Regions from separate parts of the Homo sapiens genome. Here all the other regions are linked to region 3. Evidence: fine-mapped expression QTL. A gene starts in region 3. Each other region holds a variant in brackets. All regions are shown on one strand. Distances are between the middles of the regions.

The links. PIP is the estimated chance that this variant, and not a neighbour inherited with it, causes the effect. A credible set is the group of variants that fine-mapping cannot tell apart.
Region 1: its variant is the best candidate, but not a certain one, in a credible set for the expression of STX18 in testis (GTEx, PIP 0.61).
Region 2: its variant is the best candidate, but not a certain one, in a credible set for the expression of STX18 in whole blood (TOPMed, PIP 0.87).
Region 4: its variant is the best candidate, but not a certain one, in a credible set for the expression of STX18 in hippocampus (GTEx, PIP 0.59).

Annotation. Positions count from the first base shown.
Region 1 is chr4:4,461,388-4,466,873 of GRCh38, reverse strand. The region is part of intron 2 of STX18 (syntaxin 18); the gene reads left to right. Among named protein-coding and RNA genes, the nearest start is that of STX18-IT1, 18 kb to the left of the region's middle. The variant G/T (reference allele first, on the strand shown) is at 2,505.
Region 2 is chr4:4,574,887-4,580,372 of GRCh38, reverse strand. The region is part of intron 2 of LOC124900165; the gene reads right to left. All of the region lies in intron 2 of STX18-AS1 (STX18 antisense RNA 1 (head to head)), which reads right to left. It overlaps LINC03091 (long intergenic non-protein coding RNA 3091), which reads left to right and starts at 4,482. Exons shown (of 5, transcript NR_199719.1): 1 at 4,482-4,617; 2 at 5,162-5,315. RefSeq lists a silencer at 4,689-5,048. The variant C/T (reference allele first, on the strand shown) is at 3,058.
Region 3 is chr4:4,538,991-4,544,476 of GRCh38, reverse strand. It overlaps STX18 (syntaxin 18), which reads left to right and starts at 2,429. Exons shown (of 11, transcript NM_016930.4): 1 at 2,429-2,680. The coding sequence starts at 2,513. It overlaps LOC124900165, which reads right to left and starts at 2,346. Exons shown (of 6, transcript XM_047416490.1): 1 at 2,002-2,346. It overlaps STX18-AS1 (STX18 antisense RNA 1 (head to head)), which reads right to left and starts at 2,346. Exons shown (of 6, transcript NR_037888.1): 1 at 2,002-2,346. RefSeq lists enhancers at 2,261-2,555, 2,280-2,559.
Region 4 is chr4:4,421,593-4,427,078 of GRCh38, reverse strand. It overlaps STX18 (syntaxin 18), which reads left to right. Exons shown (of 11, transcript NM_016930.4): 8 at 1,857-1,915; 9 at 3,492-3,561. Among named protein-coding and RNA genes, the nearest start is that of NSG1, 37 kb to the right of the region's middle. RefSeq lists an enhancer at 1-59. The variant G/A (reference allele first, on the strand shown) is at 2,384.

The DNA.
Region 1 (5,486 bases), 78 kb after region 3:
AGGGAGGCTGATTTGAGTAATAATAAAACCCCAGTGTCCCTTTTAGACAGCTCTATGTATATTTAACTCTTTCTCTATTGTAGTTCCCCTGTCTTGATAAATCAGCTCTATCTGGGCGGTGGGCAAGATGAACCTGTTGGGCAATTACAGTTGTTCCTAAATGCATGTCATAGGCACAGGCTTCTCCCAGTCCCCATTGCCACTGTCCTGCTCGCCCAGCACCTGTGAGCAGCACCATTCCCATGCATGCTGCCCGCTCCTCCCATCCGCTCTAGAGTGCTTCAGTGCAGCCTTTGTCACTTGCCTGATCTCTTTGTTCTCAACTCCCTGCTCTTTGTCCCTTCCTCTCCTGGTCTGTCTGGAAGGCACAGGTGTAGTCCTTATCATCGTAGATGGAATCACGTGCTTCCCTCTTCAAATCCCTTCTCTGCCTGCAGGATGTGGCCCATCCATACTTCTTAGATAAGCAAGACTTTTCATTACCCTCACCCACTTTTCCATCCTACCCCTTTCCTTCATGTGCCCTACAGCTGCATTCAGAATTAACATTTGTTCTGCCTCCAGGCCTCTACTCACACTATCAGGTTGGCCTGTTGCTCTTCACTCCAATCCACACATGTCACATGTTCACATGCTTCCATCCTGAGAGACCCATTTATCACCACCACCTTCTCGGTAGAGCCTGCCCTGGCCCTGCCTTCCTATCTGAAAGCCATCTCTCCTGCCTCTGAATACTGACAGCTCTTTTTCTGTGCTTTTCTTATGGTACTTTTCACATGTGCCTGGTAGAAGAGTAATTTGTTCGTAATCACTTCTACCACATTTCTTGAGGTGAAAAACTGTGTCCTACTCATCTCTGCATGTTTATAGTGCCATGATTTGATCAATTTGATTCATTAATCAGCTTATTCATTCTGCAGTTATTTATTGAGTGCCTACCATGTGCCATAGACTATGCCAGGCATGGAGTATAAAATAGTGAACAAACACAAACATGGTTGTCCCTGCCTTCATGGAGCTGCTAAGGTATTCATGTCAACAGGTAACATTGCAGATATGATAGGTACTGCAAAAACAGTACAGATAGCTTTTTATTTTTCCAACTTTTAAGTTCCTGGGTACATGTGTAGGATGTGCAGGTTTGTTACATAGGTAAATGTGTGCCATGGTGGTTTGCTGCACAGATCATCCCATCACCCAGGTATTAAACCCAGCATCCATTAGCTATTCTTCCTGATGCTCTCCCTTCTCCCACCCCTGATCCTCCAACAGGCCCCAGTTTGTATTGTTCCCCACCGCCTCATGTCCATGCGTTCCCATAATTCAGCTCCCATTTATAAGTGAGAACATGTGGTATTTGGTTTTCTGTTCTTACGTTAGTTTGCTGAGGATAATGGATTCCAGCTCCATCCATGTCCCTGCAAAGGACATCATCTCATTCCTTTTTATGGCTGCATAGTATTCCATGATGTATATGTTCCACATTTTCTTGATCCAGTCTATCATTCATTGATGGGCATTTAGGTTGATTCCATGTCTTTGCTATTGTGAATAATGCAGTGATGAACATACAAGTACTTGTCCATGTGTCTTTATAATAGAATGATTTGTATCCCTTTGGGTAGATACCCAGTAATGGGATTGCTGGGTCAAATGGTATTTTTGCCTCTAGGTCTTTGAGGAATCGCCACACTGTCTTCCACAGTGGTTGAACTAATTTATGCTCCCACCAACAGAACAAAGATAAAACTTACCAGAATCTCTGGGATGCAGCTAACACAGTGTTAAAAGGGAAATTTATAGCACTAAATGCCCACATCAAAAAGCTAAAAAGATCTCGAGTTAACACCTAACATCAAAACTAAAAGAACAAGAGCCAAGAGCAAACAAACCCCAAAGCTAGCAGAAGACAAGAAATAACCAAGATCAGAGCTGAACTAAAGGAGATAGAGACACACACAAAAAAAAAAACGCTTCGAAAAAATCAATGAATCCAGGAGCCACTTTTTTGGAAAAATCCAGGTTTTTGCAAAAAATTAATGAGATAGACTGTTAGCTAGACTAATAAAGAAGAAAAGAGAGAAGATTTAAATAAACACAGTTAGAAATGTTAAGAGGGATGTCACCACTGACCCCACAGGTATACAACTGCATGGAAATCAAACAACCTGTTCCTGAATGACTCTTGGGTAAATAATGAAATTAAGGCAGAAATCAAGAAGTTCTTTGAAACTACTGCAAACAGGTAGCTTTTGAGGAATTTAGCCTTGTCAGAGAAAGTGTCCTTAAAGAAGTGACATTTGAGCTGAGCTCTGAAGGAGTACGAGTTACCTAGGTAAAGCAAGAAGGAGGGAAGGGAATCCAAATGCAAAGGGGTTGGCACGTGCATACACCCTGCAGACAGCGTCTGTCCTGTAGTGAAACATGCAGAGATGAAAAAGATAGTTTCTCACACACTAAATATTTATCGAGCAGATGAAGGAATGATGCAAGTCATCGAAAAT[G/T]CCATTTGGAAAGAAAAAGAGAAAAAAACATTATAAGCAACACTTCTAAAACGCTTTCTGGAATAGACTCCAGCTCTCCATAGACAGTGGGAGTACAGGTGTCTTGTCTCGTCTCTTCCCCTAGCTCCATTTGCACTGGCTTTAGGATGGCATTTTACCGTAGGACTCATCTTCAAATGTATTATGTAAATTAATGAAAAAGTTGGATTTGACAGATAAGATAACATCATTAGGAGCATCTTTTTAGGATTTCATCTTTATAAAACGAGGGGTGGTTGCCTTTCAGAAGCATTCCTGTCACAAAGATAGAGAATATAAAATAAATCCTGCTTTTTTTTAACTTTGTCAATATATGCAAAAATGGAAATACTTCTTATAAATTCTCCAATAGAGAAAAATAATTATACCCTAGTTGAATTTTAAATAATCCTTGATGCTTTGTCTACTTGCACTTAACATCCATAGGCAATTTTATGCTTTTAAATGCACTTCATTTGCATTATTTTGGAATATACTAAAATAATTATTCCGATGCATAGTACCAAGAAAACCTTATTTTTAAGCTCTGAGTTAAAAATAGTTGGTTAACACTAGATCGCAGTGTCAATTTTATTTCTAAAGGTGTGTATGTGTATCAAATACTGATTTGATAGGCTGTAAAAAATGGAAGCTACAGTGATTTTGTAAAACTTTACAAAACTTGTATAAAGCTCTCAATTTGTAGCTTCTTTCTTTAGTATCTGACAAGTTAGGTTGACGAGGTGGTTGTAAATATCTTTCATACAAATCACTTATTAACTTCCCTTTTCCTTGAAAAGAAATCCAGCAAAGTAAATGCTTAGAGTGTTGGTTTGATTCACACCACTCCTTACGAACCATGTGAATCTGTGAAACTCAGTGTCTTCCTCTAATGCTACAGGTCAGCAAATAACAGCCACAGGCCAAATCTACATTTTAAATATACTTTTAAATGTAGTTACATATTTTAATGTTGGGGAAAAAGTAATAAGGATATTTTATCACATGTGAACATTATGTGAAATTCAAGTTTCAGTGCCCATAATAAAGTTTTATTGGCACACAGCCACGTTCATTTGTTTACATATTGTCTAGGGCTGTTTTTATGCTACAACAGCAGAGTTGAGTAGCTGTGATGGGCTACAAGGCCCACAAAGTCTAACATGTTTACTCTCTGGCCCTTTTCAGAAAAAATTTGCAAAGCCAACAGTGGGAGGGATACTCACTCAGGAAGCAGTTGAGAGGTTCAAAGCAGACAGTATGATTCAAATGCAATGTGAAAAGAACAACACAGTGGCATCCGGGTGTTCTTCTGCAACTTTGCAGTTGTTTTAAGCTTTCGATGTAATAGTGATGTTAAGGCAGTTATTATACTCAAACAGCAAAAGGAGGCTCCTGCACACTGTTTTTCAGTGTTCCCAGACTACTGCAGCATGGATTCTCATCTTAGTACAGTAAAGAAGGGCCTAAGCCTTCCCCTTTCCCAGCTACAAGGGCAGCAAATGCTAGGACTGAGGATTGGGTTCCCTAGGGGCCAGTGCCAGCTCTGCCACTTAAGGGCAGATAACTTCAGAAGATAGAACTGTTGTCCCCGAGGCATTCTTCATTTTGTTAGGTACATCGCCTCATTCTAGAAACTCAGTCTTTTTTTTTTTTTTAAGGTGGTTTTGCTATGTTGTCCAGGTTAGCTTCAAAATCCTGAGCTCAAGTGATCCTCCTGCCTCAGCCTCCTGAGTAGTTGGGACTATAGGCATATGACATGATACCCAGCTAGAAACTCAGTCTTTTATCTTTTACTCATTTTCCCGAGGCCAGTTGTTCATTGCCAACTCATGCACACTGAATTCTACTCCACCCCCTGTTTTGGTCCCTGTGAAAGAGCATGGGCTTTGGGGTCAGTCACACCTAAGTTCCAGTCCCAATCCTGCCATGTATTTATCATGTGAATGAATATAACTTGCCTTTGTGCTAGTTTTCTTTTTTATAAAATGTGGATGATGTTCTCGTGAGGATTAAATTAGGTGGGTATGAGAGTTCCTGACACATAGAAGTCTCCTGGTGAATGATAATTGAATTGGAACCCCATTTGACCTATGCTGCAGTTGCAGGGGGTTGGAGGGTGTTGGTTATTGAACAAGACAAAACCCACCTCTGTTTCCTGCCAGAGAGCTGGGAGGAGGGAGAAAGAAAGAAATGGAGGCAGGAGTCAGATCAACACAGTGGAGACCCACGTGTCATATCAGCTTTATCATTGGTAAAATCTAGGTCAGCAAACAAAGCTTTGGTTTGCAGGCGGGTGGCCTTGTTGATACTCTGCTCTTGAATTAGACACACTCAGGCATTAGTGCCACTGCGCAGCCGCAGCCCCTGGAGCACAGACAGCAGGGACAGGCCCCTTTGCAACATAGGAGAGAGAGGAACAGAGCGGAACCTCTGCTGTCTCTAAGTAGGTAAAAGAGAGGAGAGAAAGGTGTGGTGACTATATGCACACCCCATGCTTTCTGCGAGGGGGCCAGAGGGAGGAGGCTCTGGGAGGAGGCAAGGTGTCATTTGGGGAAGTTGGTTCCCACAGAAACATGAGGATTAGGGAATAAGCATTCCCCCCGGTAGCCCAGGTTCTGTCCAGGTGGAGAAAGACCACCCTTATTGTCTCTCATCAAGTTCTCCCTCCCAAAGGTGGTAGACTGCTTAAAGCCTTTCTTTTTTACTCTTCTGCCCTCCCAGTGCAATGTGCTAGCCTTGGCCTGCTCCTAGGAACATTTTATGTGGAGTATGATCATGGAATTGAAAGAATATGTGTAGAAATACTGCCTTCAGACCTATGAGGCTTTGTTAGTTTGACATAATTAGGAAGCTGTAATTTTTTCCAGAATGTAGAGCTCAGACTTTATTGACCCATTTAATTTTTTTTTAATAATGACATTTTACTAGAGCAGAACAGCATGTAACCTAGATAGCCTGTGG
Region 2 (5,486 bases), 36 kb before region 3:
ACTGGACACAGATATTCTTCAGTGGGTAAATGGTTAAAGAAACTGTGGTACTTCTATGCCATGGAACACCACTCAGTTAAAATTAAAAAAAAAAACAAAACACTACTGATGCATGCCATAACTCAGTGACTCTCAAGAGAATTAGACTGAGTCAAAAAGCCAATCCCAGAAGCATATACTTCCACTTACAGAACATTCTCGAAATAATGAAATTATAGAGATAGAGAACAGGTTTAGTGTTACAAGAATGAGGGATGCTGGGTGACATGGAGAAGTAGATGTGATTATTAAAGGCTGCAGAAGCCTGTGCTGACAGAGCTGTTGTGTATCTTGACTGTGGCGCTACATACATGGACCTACATACATGTTAAAATTGCAAAGAACTAAATACACTCACATGAGGACAAGTAAAACTGAGGAAATCTGAATAAGGCTGGTGGATTTTATCAGTGTCAATATCTTTGTTATGATATTGTAGTACAGTTTTGCAAGATGCTCCCTTTGGAGAAAACTGGATAAGAGTTACACAAATCTCTCTGTATTACTTCTTACAACTGTGCGTTCATCTACAATGATCTTTGATGTCAGTCAGCCAAGGTCAGGTAATGTCCTGACTCCATCATTTACTAACTAGGTGACCTTGGGCAGGCAAACATCCTAAAGGCTCAGTTTTCTCACCAATGAAGTGGAGATAGTTAAGAGTTCCCACTCCCTAGGGTGAAGTGAGAATGAAGTCACTCAGCATAGTGCCCAGACAACATAAATCCTTCACAAATGTCACCTTAAGGAAAATTGCATAGTTACAAGTGAGAAGAGTGGAAGTGACTGGGTCACCCCAAAACGAGCCAGAATCCTGGTCTCTGAAGCTGGGTTCCAGGCGGTGAGACAGGAAAGGATCAAAGTGAGAAATCTGTGGGTGGATACACTGATTTTCTCCTCCTGACGTTTTTGTGTGTGTGTGTGTGTGTGTGTGTGTGTGTGTGTGTTGGGGGAGGGAAGAATTAGGAGCGGGGTGGGGGTGCATTAGGAGACAAAGGAAGAAGGGGTCAGAAAGCAGGCACCAAAAAAAAAAAAATGCTAAGAAAATCAAAGGGCTGCATGGAAACAATCCTTTCAGGGACTATTGTGCTCTTGCCCAGCTCCTCCACCGGGACTGAATGGATTCCTCAGCCGTGTCCTCCTCTCCCACCAGGGTGCCTGTAGGGGTCAACTGGGTTCAAGGATGTGACAGCTGCTCAGGACAGGGGAAAGCACTGCACAAATGTTTGCTGATGGTGACGATGACGATGTTGATTTTTGTATCTGTGGTTGGAAGGATCCCTCTGGAATCATTTCACATTCTGTGCTCTCCTGGCTGACCCAAATCTGGGCAACTGGGTTTTTGTTGTTGTTGTTGTTTGTTTGTTTTTTGTTTTTGTCACTCTCTTTGTGCCCACTGCCAGGGCTCAAGGTCTGTCCCTTCAGAGCAAGAGGTGACCTTAGAAGTCCTGCTTGCTCCTCAGTGAATCCACAGATGGGCAAAAGTAACTGCATCCTCTGGGAGCTTGTTAGAAGTGCAGGATGTCTGCCCCCAGCAGGTCTCCTCATCAGGCTCCACATTTTAACAGGATCCTCGGATGATTTGAGAAGCTCTGATCTAGTCCAGACTTCTGGTTCCCTGAGGAGGAAACAAAGGCTCCAAGAGGGTAAGGGACCTGCTCCAAGTCACAAAGAATGCTTGTGCCAGGGCTGGAACTGGCACCCTGGCTCCTGGGCCCCCAGACAGCTGTCTTTAGTCAGAAGCCTTTGGGTAAAATAGGTTGTGGAGGACTGGATGTGAGATTCCTTTGTAAGGAGGAAAGCTGTCTTCTGCCCTGAAAGCTGTTCTAGTGGGAACACAGTGTCCCTCACTGACCTCATGCAGCTGTGGTTTGGGTACAGGTAAGAAGAAAGTCCATGCAATTTGCAGATATATAAAATCTCTCCTCTTCCAGAGAAGGCTGTGCAGAAACATCATAGCAGTTAGATTGCTTTTGCATTGACTCAGACCTCTCTGTGCCTCAGTTTCCTCATCTGGAAAAGATGTTCCCTCCTGCAATGAGCACCTGCCACATGCCAAGCCCAATGCCTGGTGGTCACACAAGTCACAATGGCATGAGACACACAGAAAGACCATGGCAGTGTCTGCTAAGGATTCAAGGAAAAGTGAGGAGAGTGCACCCAGAAAAAAAAATCACAGAGAATCACAGGCTATCACTGGAGAAAATATCTATTTGACCCCATTTGCGAAAGTAGGCCATTAGAACTTTACCTTTCCCTAATGCTCAGTTGCATGAAACCAAACTGCTTCTTCCATGAACCCATATGAGAGAATGATGGCACTGAAAGGAGCTTCAGATAGGAAATTTTCTGATCCACCTTCATTTTCCAGAAGGGGAAACTGAGGAACAGAGAGGTGCAGAAACTTCCCTGGGGACACACAACATGAGTAGTAGCACCATGTTATGGACAGAATGTTTGTGTTCCCTCCATATTCATATGTTGAAGCCTTAACTCCCAAGGTTGGTATTTGGAGGTGGGGCCTTTGGAGATAGTTTAGTTGAGATGAGGTCATGAGGGTGGGATCTTCATGACTGGATTAGTGCCTTTATAGGAAGAGACCAGAGAGCTTGTTCCCTCTCTCTCTCCACTATGTGAGAACACAGCAAGAAGGCAGCCATCCGCAAGCCAGGACAGGAGCCCTTACCAGACAAGAATCAGCTGGCCCCTACTTCTTGGACTTTCAGCCTCCAGACCTATGAGAAGTCAATGTTATCTGAGCCACCCTATGGCTATGGTATTTTGTTATAGCAGCCAGAGCTGACTGAAACACACCAGAACTACCCATCCTTTTTCTGGTACACTTAATATCTCATGTTCTTCTACCCCAACCTCTCATGAGAAACTCACAATTCAATTCAGCACTGACAAGTACCCTCCTTCTATTAGAGTTAGGCTGGTGATTGAGACATGGTTACAATCACACTGGACTCCAGGGAATCTACAGCTTAGCAGGGCCTGACCTGAGAAGGTCCTGCT[C/T]ACATGAAAGCCAGGACACTAGAAAGATGGGAGGTGCCCCACCCCTAGCATGGGGAGGAGGTGGGGGACTGAAGTGGGCAGGACCATCCTAGGGGTTGGGTACCCTAAGAAAGTTGCCTGGGACCCCCATGCTGCTGGAAGGGATTTCCAACAAAAATGCTGGAGACCTGGAAAAGTAATTTTTGGCTCCACCAGGAGGAAAGCAAACTACAAAGTCAAAACTAATAAATGTCTAATTAAATGTCTACAGAAGGTAGCACCGTGTCAACATCATTAAAATGCTAAATTAATTATTCCTAAAAATTTCATTACATGTGAAAAGGATTTAATTTTCTCACTTTGCAAGAATTTCCCAGTACACCCAATCATTTCTGTGAAATCACAGCCACTGTAAATTAGTGCCTTGTAGCCAACTAAAAGCAAAATCAAAATTATTTTTAAAATATAGTTTCAGATATTATGGAATAAAAAGGCCATATGTAATGTGTTTTGAAGTTTGCTATGATGACGGCCAGGCTCCACAAAACAAAGGTAGCTAAGGGCCTGCAAGGTACTGACTTGGTACCTTAACTAGCTGGTGTCACAGTCCCTGCTGGGCATCCCTGGGCAGGTCACTTCACATCTTTGAGCTTCAGTTTTTCCCCTTCTGAAATATCCAAGGGGTCAGTAACCCTGCCTGCGAGAGCTTGTTGTGAGGATCCAAAGCCTCGACCCAGGCAGTAAAGAGGCATAAAAGCCAGACAGGGCCTCACTCGCCTGGGACCCAAAATTTAAGAGGGCGCCCAAAATCTCAATAACCAAGATAAAGAATACTTTAATGTAATATATTTTTAATCAAAGTAAATATATTTCTAAATTTAAATAAATAAATGAAGGGTTTTTAAAAACACATACACACACAAGACGACAAAAATGTCAAATATTTAAACATCTGTCTGGGACTCTGAGGCCACCCTGCCCAGCAGCATCCCTTCTAGCTCTGTGATCTGGGACTCCTTCTGCGCCTCGCTTCACAGATCTGTACAGTGGGGTGATCTGTACAATGGGATCTGCACAATTGGGTGGTTTATACAATGGGGTGATCTGTACAATGGGGTGATGTGTACAATGGGGTGATGTGTACAATGGGGCGATCTGTGCAATGGGACGAGCTGTACAATGAGGTGATCTGTACAAAGGGGTTATCTGTACAATGAGGTGATGTGTTCAATGGGGTGATCTGTGCAATGGAGTGATGTGTACAATGGGACAATCTGTGCAATGGGACGATCGGTACAATGAGGTGATCTGTACAATGGGGTGATCTGTGCAATGAGGTGATCTGTACAACGAGGTGATCTGTACAATGGGGTGGTCTGTACAATGGCTGATGTGTACAATGAAGTGACGTGTACAATGTGGTGAGCTGGACAGTGGGGTGAGCTATACAATGGGTTGATCTGTAGAATGGAGTGAGCTGGACAATGGGGCTACTCACCCCACCCACCTTGCAAAGTGATGCAGGACAGGAAATGGGTTAATAGAAGCTCGGATTTAGAAGAGTGCCTGGCACGCCTAAGGGTGAGGTGCGAGGGGGGTGCTATATTGCCCTCAGCGGGCACATCGCGCGTATCGGAGAAAACCCAGGTCACACTGTCACCCACGAGGTTACGCTGGGGCCGGGGCTTGGCGCAGGCGCGTTGTGGTCGCCGTCGGCGTGGCCTGCGCTACCGCTCCCGCCCTCAGAGAGGCTCTTGGGGGCTCCGGAGGCAGCGAACCGGGCGCCGGGCGCTGGAGGCCAGGCTCTTCTGCCCGTGGGACCCCGCCGCGCGCCCGTCTCCGCCTTTGTCCCGCTCAGCGCCGCGGGCCGCACGCTCCTCCCAGCGCCGCCAGGCGGCCCGCGCCCTTTGTCTGCCCTGCGGCGTCTGGGGCGGCGCTGACACTTGATCCCGAGGCCCAGCGAGTCCCTCATTAGGCGCGGCCGCACTTCAAAGGGGGCGCGACCGTCCCTCTCAGACGGCGACCCGGGCGGGGCCGCGCCAGCCGAGCGGTTAACCCGCTCCTTTGGGGATGGGAGGCGCCTTCCCCAAAGGGGTCCAATAATGAAACTTTTTGTCCATTGCAGGCTCAAGCCGTCTGTGTAATTATCTTAAACTTTTTCATTTCGGAAATGAAACAGCTCCTCCCTTCACCGCCACCTTGGCTATTTCTGGGACCAAAGGAATCCTTGAAGCTGACCGGGCAGGAGAGTCCACGCTGGGAGTAAAATCACTACAAACGTTTGTAGGGGGGCCCTGGCTGAATTAGTTCAATTTCAGGGAGAAAACTGGTGTGTGTGTGTGTGTGTGTGTGTGTGTGTAAAATCACTGCAAATGTCTGTCGGGGCGTGGCTGGATTAGCTCAGTTTCCGGGAGAAAACTGGTGTGTGTGTGTGTGTGTGTGTGTGTTGT
Region 3 (5,486 bases):
TTAAAGAGTAAACACAAAATGTAAAAAGCACAACCCCATATCCCATGGTCTGTGGAAAGTTCAGCAGCCTCCTCAAGATCTTTGTGACTTATTTAGGAATTTTATGTACTTGTGGTCACTTGTGGATTTACAGCCTGATGTTTTGAGCTCACTTGGGTCTTATATCCACCACAATCTTCTCTGCTCTTGCAAATCCAGACAGAAAACTTAGATCTTTGTCCCTACCCTTCTACCCAAAATATCCAACTGCACCAAACACACGGTTTACACAAGGCACCACTCACTGAAGGCTTGGTGTAGTTCAGCCTCCCTCCCACTCAAAGATCCTTCCCAGTTACCTACTTTGTACTTTCCCGGCCCCCTCCCTGGGTTCTGGCTTCTCTTTTCTTCCCCCCAATTCAATCCCCCTCACTTTATTATGCAGGGCAATCTCTCTTTCCTTCTACTCTACCCCAGGCTTAACTTTGCATGGCCAAAAACTGATTAATGTCTGGATTAAACAAAGGGCCATTTATGCAAGATAGAATCATTGGCAGAGATTTTGTAATTTCTTTCTCTTTTCCTCAGTAGGTGGAAGAAAGCTGTATGGAAATTTATTTTCCTTAAACTGCAAGAAGTGGCTACAGTTTGGGTTTAAATAATCTTTTCCTGGCCGGGCGCGGTGGCTCACGCCTGTAATCCCAGCATTTTGGGAGGCTGAGGCAGGCGGATCACGAGGTCAGGAGATCGAGACCATCCTGGCTAACACGGTGAAACCCCATCTCTACTAAAAATACAAAAGAATTAGCCAGGCGTGGCGGTGGGCGCCTGTAGTCCCAGCTACTCGGGAGACTGAGGCAGGAGAATGGCGTGAACCCGGGAGGCGGAGCTTGCTCCAGCCTGGGCGACAGAGCAAGACTCCGCCTCAAAGAAAAAAAAAATCTTTTCCTTCCTCCTTTCTGGTAAATATATACTTTCTTGACATCTATTTCTGATAAACTTTATTTTTTTAACACAGTGGTTCTCAAACTTTTGGTCTCAACTCTTTTGCACACTTAAAAATTATTAAGGGCTCTAAACAATTTTGGTTTATATTGACATTATCGACATTTACTATATGAGAAATCAAAACAAAAACTTGATGTTTTTGAAAGTCTTTTTTTGGAGTCTGGCTTAATAGAAAACAGCTGTTCTGCATTTACTCCGTTGCAATATCACAGTCTCCAGCAAACTCAACTGTATGCAACTCATAAGAAAATCAGAGCGAAAAGGCAAATAACATCTTAGTATTGTGAAAATTTTATCTTGATGACCATTAAAACTGCTGTTTTAATACATATTCTACTTGTGCTTCCTCTTTATGAAAAAAGAAATCTTGAAGAAATCAATGAGATTTTGAATTAAAACTGAACCATAGGCCAGGCACGGTTGCACGTGCCTATAGTCCCAGCTACTCAGGAGGCTGAGTCCGGGAGGATCGTTTGAGCCCTGGCGTTCCAGCTGTAGTGAGCTAGGATGGCGCCTCTGACTAGCCACTGCAATCCAGCCTGGGCAACATAGTAGACCCCCGTCTCAAAAAACAACACAAAACAGAACATGAACCTAAAATGCAGAAGAAACTCATTGATTGAGTTGTCAATTTTAATAGCTATGGCTCAAGACGGTACAATTAAAAACTATGCATGAAGGATGAAGAGAATCCAGCGGCATTAGGGCCACTCTTTCACCTTTGTCTCCATCTAAACTTCCTATTCATCCTTCAAATCTCTGCACAGGTGACGCCTTTTCTCTAAAGCCTCTTCCTTTACCACAAATAACAGTGATTATAATAATAACATTATTAACGATTACTACCATTTATTGGCCACTTACTAGGAGCCAAGCAACATCAAAACACAGCACGCGTCAGCTCACTTAATTTTCACAGTAAACCCCGAGGAGGATGCTGGCTTCACTTTAAAAAGAGGTGACTGAAGGTTGGAGAAGAAAGGCCTCTGGCCTCTAGCTCTGTGCCTTGCACACCTGATCTGTCTCAGCATTTATTGCATCCCGAGGGTCACCGTCCACGTGCCTCTATCCTGCTCAAGGTGAGTTCTTGCAGTCAAAGGTCAAGGGTGGCTCGTCTCCACTTCCCCCGCAACCAAACCGCCCGGTCTCAGTGAGGGAGCCGCCAGAAGGGAAGGAGCCTCCTAGCTTCCCGGTCCTCACGCTCCCGGAGCCCACACGCCCCAAACAGACACAGAAGAGCTCGCTGAGCTCTCCGCGCAGCTAAACCCTCCAAGCTTTGCTGGGAGAAACCGATGCCCGAGAGCGCGTCGCGAGGTTCCTCCTCCGCCAGGTGCGCCGGCTGAGGCCGGAACCTTTTTCCTCCCGCCGCGGTAGCAGGGCGCAGGCCGGAACCTTTCTTCTCGCGTCGCCGTTGCCGGGGGGAGGCGTGTGGGGCAGGACCAGTCCTTCAGCGGCCGGGTTCGCGCCGCGGTCGCCGGCTGCTTACGTGGGCGGGCCTAGTGTGGGGCTGAGGGTGCGGGTCGCTATGGCGGTGGACATCACGCTGCTATTCCGGGCCAGCGTCAAGACCGTGAAGACGCGGAACAAGGCGCTGGGAGTGGCGGTGGGCGGCGGGGTCGATGGCAGCCGGGACGAGCTGTTCCGCCGGAGCCCCCGGCCCAAGGGCGACTTCTCCAGCCGGGCCCGCGAAGTGGTGAGCTGGTTGCTATGGAAACGGCGGGTTGAGGAGGGGGCAGTCCTGCGACAGGGACCCCGGGCCCCAAACCAGACCCCGTCCCGTAAGCATTGTGTGAAGGGGGTGGCTCTAAGGGGGACAGAAGAGTTGGCCTCAGAGACCCTACAGCTTTTTGGGGGAAGGAACAGCCTTATTTTGAGGAAGGGGGACGCATATTGGGGAACAGATTTCTCCTGCGGCGACAGGGATTGGGGGACAAGAAAGGAGATCCTCAGAAATCTCTATCTGGAAAGTGCATGGGCGGCTTTGTGAGGTCATGAGTTCGCCGTCACTACAGACTTGCACTCAGGGGAAACCTCCTGACAGTCCTTCGCTTCCTGTTGCAGCACTGACCACACCATATTTGCCTGTTCTATTTACTTGTCTGCCTCCCACCCCTAGTTGAGATTAAAAACTGTATTCAGCCGAACTCTTTCTTCCCTTTGTCTCTGCAATAAGTAGGACTCAGTTCCTCTTGAGACGGGTTTAGGGTAATCTTTCGCAAACACAGTGTTACAGTCACCTCAACTACTTTCTGTTCCCTGATCAGAGCAGGTGTCCCTTCATCTCCCTGGGAACAGGAACCTTTTCCTTAAGGGCAGGGACAGTGTTGTTTTCATCTCAGAATGCATGACTCATAGCATTGCTTAGTAAATGTTTGTTGAATGAGTGAATGAACAAATGGCTGTCTTTCCCATTAAACAGAAAACTCCATAAGGGGAGAGCTGTTTGTCTTGTTCCCTTTTGTGTTCGTGACACCAAGGAGGTATCTAGGTTTTGTGGGGCCTACAGCTTATATAGTTCTGTCTGCCCTCTTCAAGAAATAAAAATCACCAAGAAAGATTCAGAGCTTTGGAAGATTGAAGAGAGGGACCCTAAAGCTTAAGCCTCATTAATTTCACAGTAAATCCTTCTCTGCTTGGCATACACTTGGCACTGTATAGACACTCAGATATTTTTGAATGAATGTAGTCATGCATGCATTAATGACAGTTAGCAGAGGATACTTAAACATTAGAAAGGGGATTGGACCAGATGAATACACTCGCCCTATTGATGACCGTCTATGAAGCACCTACCTTCTGACCAGCCTCGTGTTAGAGTAATATGATGTAAAAGCAGTGGTGGAGTAGACGGACATAGACATAAAACAAGTGCCATAAAGCCTTGCAGGTGTTGTGTAGGGCACAAAAAGAATGTGGTCAGTTCTACCTGAGGACCAGAAAAGGCTTTATAGAGGCGATGATGCCTAAAACAAATCTTGAAAGAGGATTAGTTGGTTCCAGTGCAGAAGGACATCTCAGGCTAAGAGAATAGTATGCGCTAAGCTGTGGAGGTAGGTAACAGTCTGACATAAGTTGGTTCAATAAACATTTGAGTGAGACTGGAATGTGGGACTCTCATAAAAATTGGACGCGGAGATCTTAAAGGGCTTTGTGTATCATTGCAGAGTTTGAATTTTGCCCTGTAGATGGTCAGATGTTATCTGGTAGAGAAAGCACCAGAGAAGGAGCCAAGAGACGAGGTTGTTGTCTGAACCCTGCAACTATTAGCTATATGATTTCATTAAGCAAGTTTTAAGACCTCAGTTTATTTACCTGTAAATGGTCCTTTTTTTCTCCTCCTCCTTTTAAAAAACTACCTTGGTCCTCTATATGTAACAAATTAAAGTGGGAGCTTCCTAGGTTGAAATAAGAGGAAGAGAAACAGGACACTCTCCCTCCCAGTTTGGCCCAAGCACTTCTTGAGATTCCTTTTGTAGAACTGTGGTATGAATATCACAGTATTGGCTTTTTAAGGGTCCCTTCTAACTCTGAAACCACTGATTTATTAACACTGTGCTAATTTTGAGTCCTGCTCAGGGAAAGGGGGGATTTGGGAATGGTAGAGACAGGAGGCACAGTTGGGTTGGCAAGCCCTTTGGAGAGCCCTGTGATCACTTCCACCTCTCCCTGAGTGGTGAAAATGTGTTTGAGTTTTGAGTTAATGGGCCTCAGGGACAGTAACAGTCCCATAGGGTGCTGAGTTCCCTGTCACTGGAAGTGATTAAACAGAGTGATGACTGCTTTTCAGAGATGTTTGAGAAAAGCTTTGTGCATATGTCACAGGGTTGGACCGCATGACAATGCAACTTGCAGTTCTGCTATGTATTGATGTGAGTAGGTGTCACATCACCTTAAGTGAGTTCATGGGCTGTGTTGTTCAGGGACACTGTCCCCCTGACGTAGAGGAAACATACATTCTTTTAAGCAATTTTGATTTTATGTTGTCATTGCTTTGTGTATTATCTCCTGTTCTTGCAACCGTTCCCCACTCCCCATCTTCTCTTGTGGGAAGTTTAACTAGAAGAGCTAGTGATGGATGTCCTGTGCTTTTACTACAATTAGATGTCAAAAGTTTGGCTGTTATTTTGTTTGGCCTGGATTCCTTATAGAGAAAAGTCTGGTAAATACCAGAAGCACATATTCTAATTCAGGTTTAGCCCTGGTTGTCAGACTTAATGAAATGTAATAAGTTATAGTATGCCTTTTGGTAAGTGCCTTCCTTGAAGCATTTGCTGTTACTTCTAGGATGCGTTTTATCTGGTTCAATTTCTATTCTTCCATTCCATTCCTCAAATATATGCCTGATGCCAGATTTCCATCTCACTGAATTGTTGTAGAGGTTATATTAAGTTGAATAAAATTGCATTGAAACTGCAATTTTATTGCAGTCCCTACCTTCCAACAACAGGCTGATTGCTTCTGCATCATTCTTTTAAACATTTAACTTTTATGCTCAATTT
Region 4 (5,486 bases), 120 kb after region 3:
TGAACAAGTGTGAGAAATGTCCTTGAAGAGCCAAGTACAGGGGAACTTGGTAACAAGAGTGAGAAAGTAAGAGAAGGTGATTCAGTCTGCCCTGAGGTATCAGATCGCTAGGAAGATGCCTGGGGTTTTGAGGGACCACGTGGAGTTCTGCAGCCAGGCAGGAAACTAGCCTGTCAGAGCAGAGCTGAGATGGGAGATGTCACGTGGCCAGGGCATGGATAACAGTGTGCCCTAGACCTGATCTGTAGGGTCAGCGGGCAAGGCCACCATGAGGCATTCTGGCATGACCAGCACTTGAGATCACTTTGACCAAGGATTGGATAACAGGTTGGAGGCAAGTGAGAAACGGTGAGGGTGGAATGTGGACGGTAGGGGAAGGGCTGAATACAGCAAGTGCATGTGCGGGGGCGAAACTGGTGGACTTAGGAAGGGGCGTGTGTGTGAAGAGCGCCTGCATAGAGCACAGCTGGGGTACTTGGAGGGGAGGGGTCCTGGGTGGGAAGGAGGCTGCTGGGGAGACCCTGCAACTCATTTCCGCCCTAGGACAATGGCAACAAGGTCAGGCTGTTGAATGAAGTGCCAGCATAGCCCGTGGTGGTCAGCTGCCTCCCATAACCATTGTTTCCCTTGTATTTTTGGTTTACTAAGCAAGTGATAAGCCAGATCTTCCATCGATTCGGAGCCTCCAGAGGCTTGCTTGTATGTATCCCTCCCACTCCTGCTTACAGAATGCCTCAGAAAATATTTGTGGATTTGATGGCAGCTTTAATCTATAAGAAAGAAAGAACAACTGGAATGCCTTTGCAAAGTTATGTTCCACCCAGTTCCCGCCCTCAGGAAGCTCAGGGTGACACGGGAAGTTTGGGATGGGCACAGTTTATTACAAGGCAGAAAGGGACCGTTGGGCGCTACTATCCTAAGATATTTTCAGAAAATGGTAGGCCAAGGATAGGAATATGAGAAATAAGTTTGAGCTTAGGGGCCAGGGTAGGTGTCCTGGAGAAGTGGGGCCTGCGGGATGCATCGGGGAGGAAATGCAGGACGCCCCTGACTCCCTGCACATTGCGGGAGTTGAGTGGACACACGAGGACAGGGCTGTGGGGGCCTGCAGTGAGGGCAAGGAGCTGTTCCTGTCCATTCTCTGTGCTGAGTTTCAGGAGCTTCCATCCTTTTCTTTGGCCCATATCAAACTGGCAAGAATGGCTGGGAGAGCAACTGTCTGTGCCAAGCTCACTCAGCTCCAAGAAGCTCCCATGTATCCCTGGTGTCAGGGCACCCGTCCTCACCCAGCCTGAGCACTGGGAAACACGCTCCTCTGGCTCTGGGCCTCTGTCCCTGTTGAGCAGTGGAGTGGCCAGGCTCTGAAGTCAGAGGGGCCCAGAGGCAGCTCGGCCAAGCTGCCCACCTCCCCTTCCTCTCCAGACCCTCCCCACACCAGATCCTTCTCCATATTAAAAAATATGTATAGTCCTTCAGTATAGTTCATGAGAGAAAACAACAACAAAAGAATTTTCTTAATAATGGTACTAGAGTCAGGAAGCAGGCCGTGGGATCCCAGGGGAGAGCGGGTAGGTAGATACAGCTACAGCCATAGCAGTCAGCTTGTACCCCTGGAGTGCAGTGGTTGAGATGGAGAAGTCAATTACCAGGCAGCACAGCTGTTTTTTAAAACTTTCTCCTGAAAGCAGGGACGTTGTTCACACTAATGCTAACGGTCGTCCAGCACCGGCTGCCACGTTGCCGCAGCTGGAAATGGGGGCTTCGGCAGTGATTCCTGGAGCGTAGGTCCGCTTTCTTGCTAGACTCTTGCCTAAGTTCAGTATGATGTCATCCTGAGTGTGTCTGTTTCCTCACAGTTTGAACAGGAAAATCAGCGACTAATTGGTGAAATGAACAGCTTGTTTGATGAAGTGAGGTATGTTTGTAGCTCCTCTGTGAGCTGATAGCCTGCTTTACAACTTTTCCAGGAACTAGGAACTTTATTTACCTTGGTGCCCAGGCATCCCCATGGGGCCCTTGGGCTGGTGCAGCCCCCCTCAGCCATTTTGACTGGGCTGGGGTGGGCATGTGGCCTGAATCCACAACTCCCTCAGCTTGTGGGCCTGTGGGTTACCTCCTGCCTGCTGCCACTGCTGCGGGGGGCCCAGGTGCTTCCCACCCCGAGAGATACAGGAGTGACTACAGATTACCTGCGTATAATTTCCACCACCATTCGGGCTGTTTCCACGCAGCGACTCTGAAATGAAATGGGGCCCTTATGAAGGGCAGCTAACCAAGGGAAGCCCTCTTCTGCAAATGGTTCCACTGGGGTCTGCCTGCTCCTGTACCCACCAGGGAGTCAGGAATGCAGAAGGCAAGGCCTTGGTCACTCACACATGCACCC[G/A]TTAGCCTCTAGTTTCTGTGGGAAGGCTTGGAGCATGCTGAAAGTAAGGCCCAGGACTTTGCAGAGCCTGTTGTATTGTGGACATGTCCCCCAAATAAAATCAATCCTGATGCTGCACTCACACAGCCTGAGGACTTTCTCAGTGTAGGTGTCAGCCTCCAAGGGGCTCTTCGCCTTCTGCCCTCAGAGATGGACCTCCTAGTCCTCCTCTGACAGCCTAGCTTTCACTGTCTGCCCCACTACCGCCCCCACCCCGCTACTCCCCCATGCCCAGATACTCACTGGCTTTTCTTCCCACATCTCCTCCCCTGCCCCCTGCCACTGTGATACTGTTGGGATTCATCACTGCTTCCACCTGGCCAGGAGCTCAGCTCCCACCACTTTTTGCCTCCTGTCACTTCCTGTCGCTGCTTTGTGCTGGAACAGCAGTTGACTTCAGCTTGGGCCAGCTTCTGTTTCTAAATAGATGTGCCCCCACCCGCCCCCCAGGGTAGCCCATGCTGCCCCTGACACCAGGAAGATGGCTAGCCCAAGTGTTTCAGATCCGACAGAACACTCCGTTGCCAAACCAAGACATGGCATTTTCTAAATGAATCAGAGGAGCTTTTTTCTTGGAACAGGGAGTTGGTTTGAAGGTAAATACACTTTTTTCTTTAACCTGCTGAGCATTAACAAAGCTGGATCATCAGCATATTCTGACCTTCTGAATCCCCACCATGTGTTACCATGGTGATGAGGCTAGGCAGAGAACTTACTGGAGACTGCTTTCTGTAACTGGGGCACAACCAGGCCCTCCCCATTCCCCGAGCAGTGACACAGAATGCAAAGGGCACTGCACACACCCACCTCTTGGGACTGAGGGTCAGTTGGCATGGTAGAGTGGACTTCCAAAAAGACCAGTGTGCTAGGCTATGCCAGAAGACAGGGAAGGTGACCCAGTAAGGAGAGTTCGCCTTCCTCTCCCATCTCCTCTTCCCCCAGCCGACACAGTGTGCCCCCTGTCTCTCCCACCTTCACGTAGAAGATAGGATTTCTTTAGAAGTGTGTAACAGTCCTGTTAGATTACCAAGTGCTAATAGTTAATATGTAATCTGTTCTTTTTATGAAGGCAAATCGAAGGGAGAGTGGTTGAGATTTCCAGACTCCAAGAGATATTCACGGAAAAGGTTTTGCAACAGGTAAAAAAACAAAAACAAAGGAGCTGTATGTTTTCACTCAAAGGGGAATGTACTTGAGAGCACGAGACATTTTTCCCAAAGGCTGCTGCTCTACACAGCCAGGAGCAGAGCCATGTGTTGCTAGCAGGTGTGTGTGCGCAGAGCTCCTCAGGGAAAAGCTCTCACTACCCAGAGCTGCCTCTGCACACGTGTGATGGAGGAGGAGCTCCCCACAGGGGACCCACTGACCACCCCATGTGGTAGCACATGCGGTGGCACGTGGGAGGAGAGTCCAGGCCTGGCAGTCAGGGTTCTGGATGTGCTGGGTAAGCTAGGTAGCCCCCACAAGCTACAGTTTCCCATCTATAGGAGGGAGGGACTCCTGCAGGGTTATTCTCTGTTTGAGAGATAACTGCAGAAGCATCCAGCACGATGCTGACGGGCAGTTGCTTTTCAGTCAGTAGGTTACAGGAGCTCAGACCCAGGCCTCTCACAACGCGCGGTCCATGCCACCTCAGGGATGGTGTCTGCGTGGGAAATAGGATTGTTCTTTTCAAGTGAATTTTCTGAAATTCTTCCAGCCAATAACTGGCAAAACTTTTCAAGACCTGATAAATTTGCCCTTTTATTTTTAGCATCCAAAGACTATGGGAACGTTTGAAAGACAAAATTTTCTCCAGTATTTTAAACTGGACTACTTGACTTAAGATACTTCACTCACAAAATGACTTTCCATAAACCACACAGCCAGAGTGAAATCATTGTAAATGAGGTACATTAAGTCTAACAGTGGTTTGCAAGTTCGGGTTCATAGGAGTCGCCCTTTTTAATAACACTACCCTGCTTCAAACCTCCCAGCGGCTCCAGGGGGCCTGGGAGGGGCGTGCAGAGCATAGGCAGAGCCTTGCCTTGGCTCACCGGGAGTTTCTTTTTCTTTTCTTTTTTTTTCTTTTTCTTTTTTTTTTTTTTGGAGACAGAGTCTTGCTGTGTCGCCCAGGCTGGAGTGCAATGTTGCTATCTTGGCTCACTGCAACCTCATCCTCCCAGGTTCAAGCGATTCTCCTGCCTCAGTCAGCCTCTTGAGTAGCTGGGATTACAGGCATGCCACCACGCCTGGCTAATTTTGGTATTTTTAGTAAAGACGGGGTTTCACCATCTTGGCCAGGCTGGTCCCGAACTCCTGACTTCAGGTGATCCACCTGCCTTGGCCTCCCAAAGTGCTGGGATTACAGACGAGAGCCACTGCGCCCGGCCCACTGGGAGTTCCTAAGTCCTGAGGAACAATGTGTCTTTCTTGTTTTTTCCATCAGTGTTGCATTGTAGTTCATATTGATTCTCTCATTGGAACCTTGGCAGTGGTCACTTAGTTCACACTTTGAGACTCTCTAAAAAGGGGTGATGATGAGGCAAAGCCATCCCAGTAATATTCATTGCTGGGAATCAGAGGCCACATGCTGCCTTCCTCCCTACAATGTGTCAGTCAGGTTTCTCTAAAAACCCACGCTAGCATTCATTCTGCCCTGACCCTGTTAGGAAGCAGCTTCACCACCACCGAAAGGAGGAGAGAAGCAGGCACTCCTGCTTGTAAGGACGTCTAGCACCGTCTCTGCTCCTGTGGGGCCAGACGCCCCCTGTGTTATCCCACGCTTCTCAAGCTTTTCAAGGCTTCGTTTGGAGTAAACGTTTTCTGTAAGCATCCTGCATCCTATTTTGATTTTTAAATTTTAGCCTGTTTTTTAAGAGATATGATGATAGTAAAACACAAAGCACTATTTTTGAAGCTAGCATATGTATTTCGAAGCACATACATTTTAAAGCTTACTTCTGTGGACTTCAGAAAGAAATGAGAGACTAGAAGGGAAGCCCCTGGCATATGGTGGCTGCTCCACAAACAATAGCTCTTAGGTTTTTGTCCGTCACCGGCGAGTGGCGCAGGAGGGATGGTA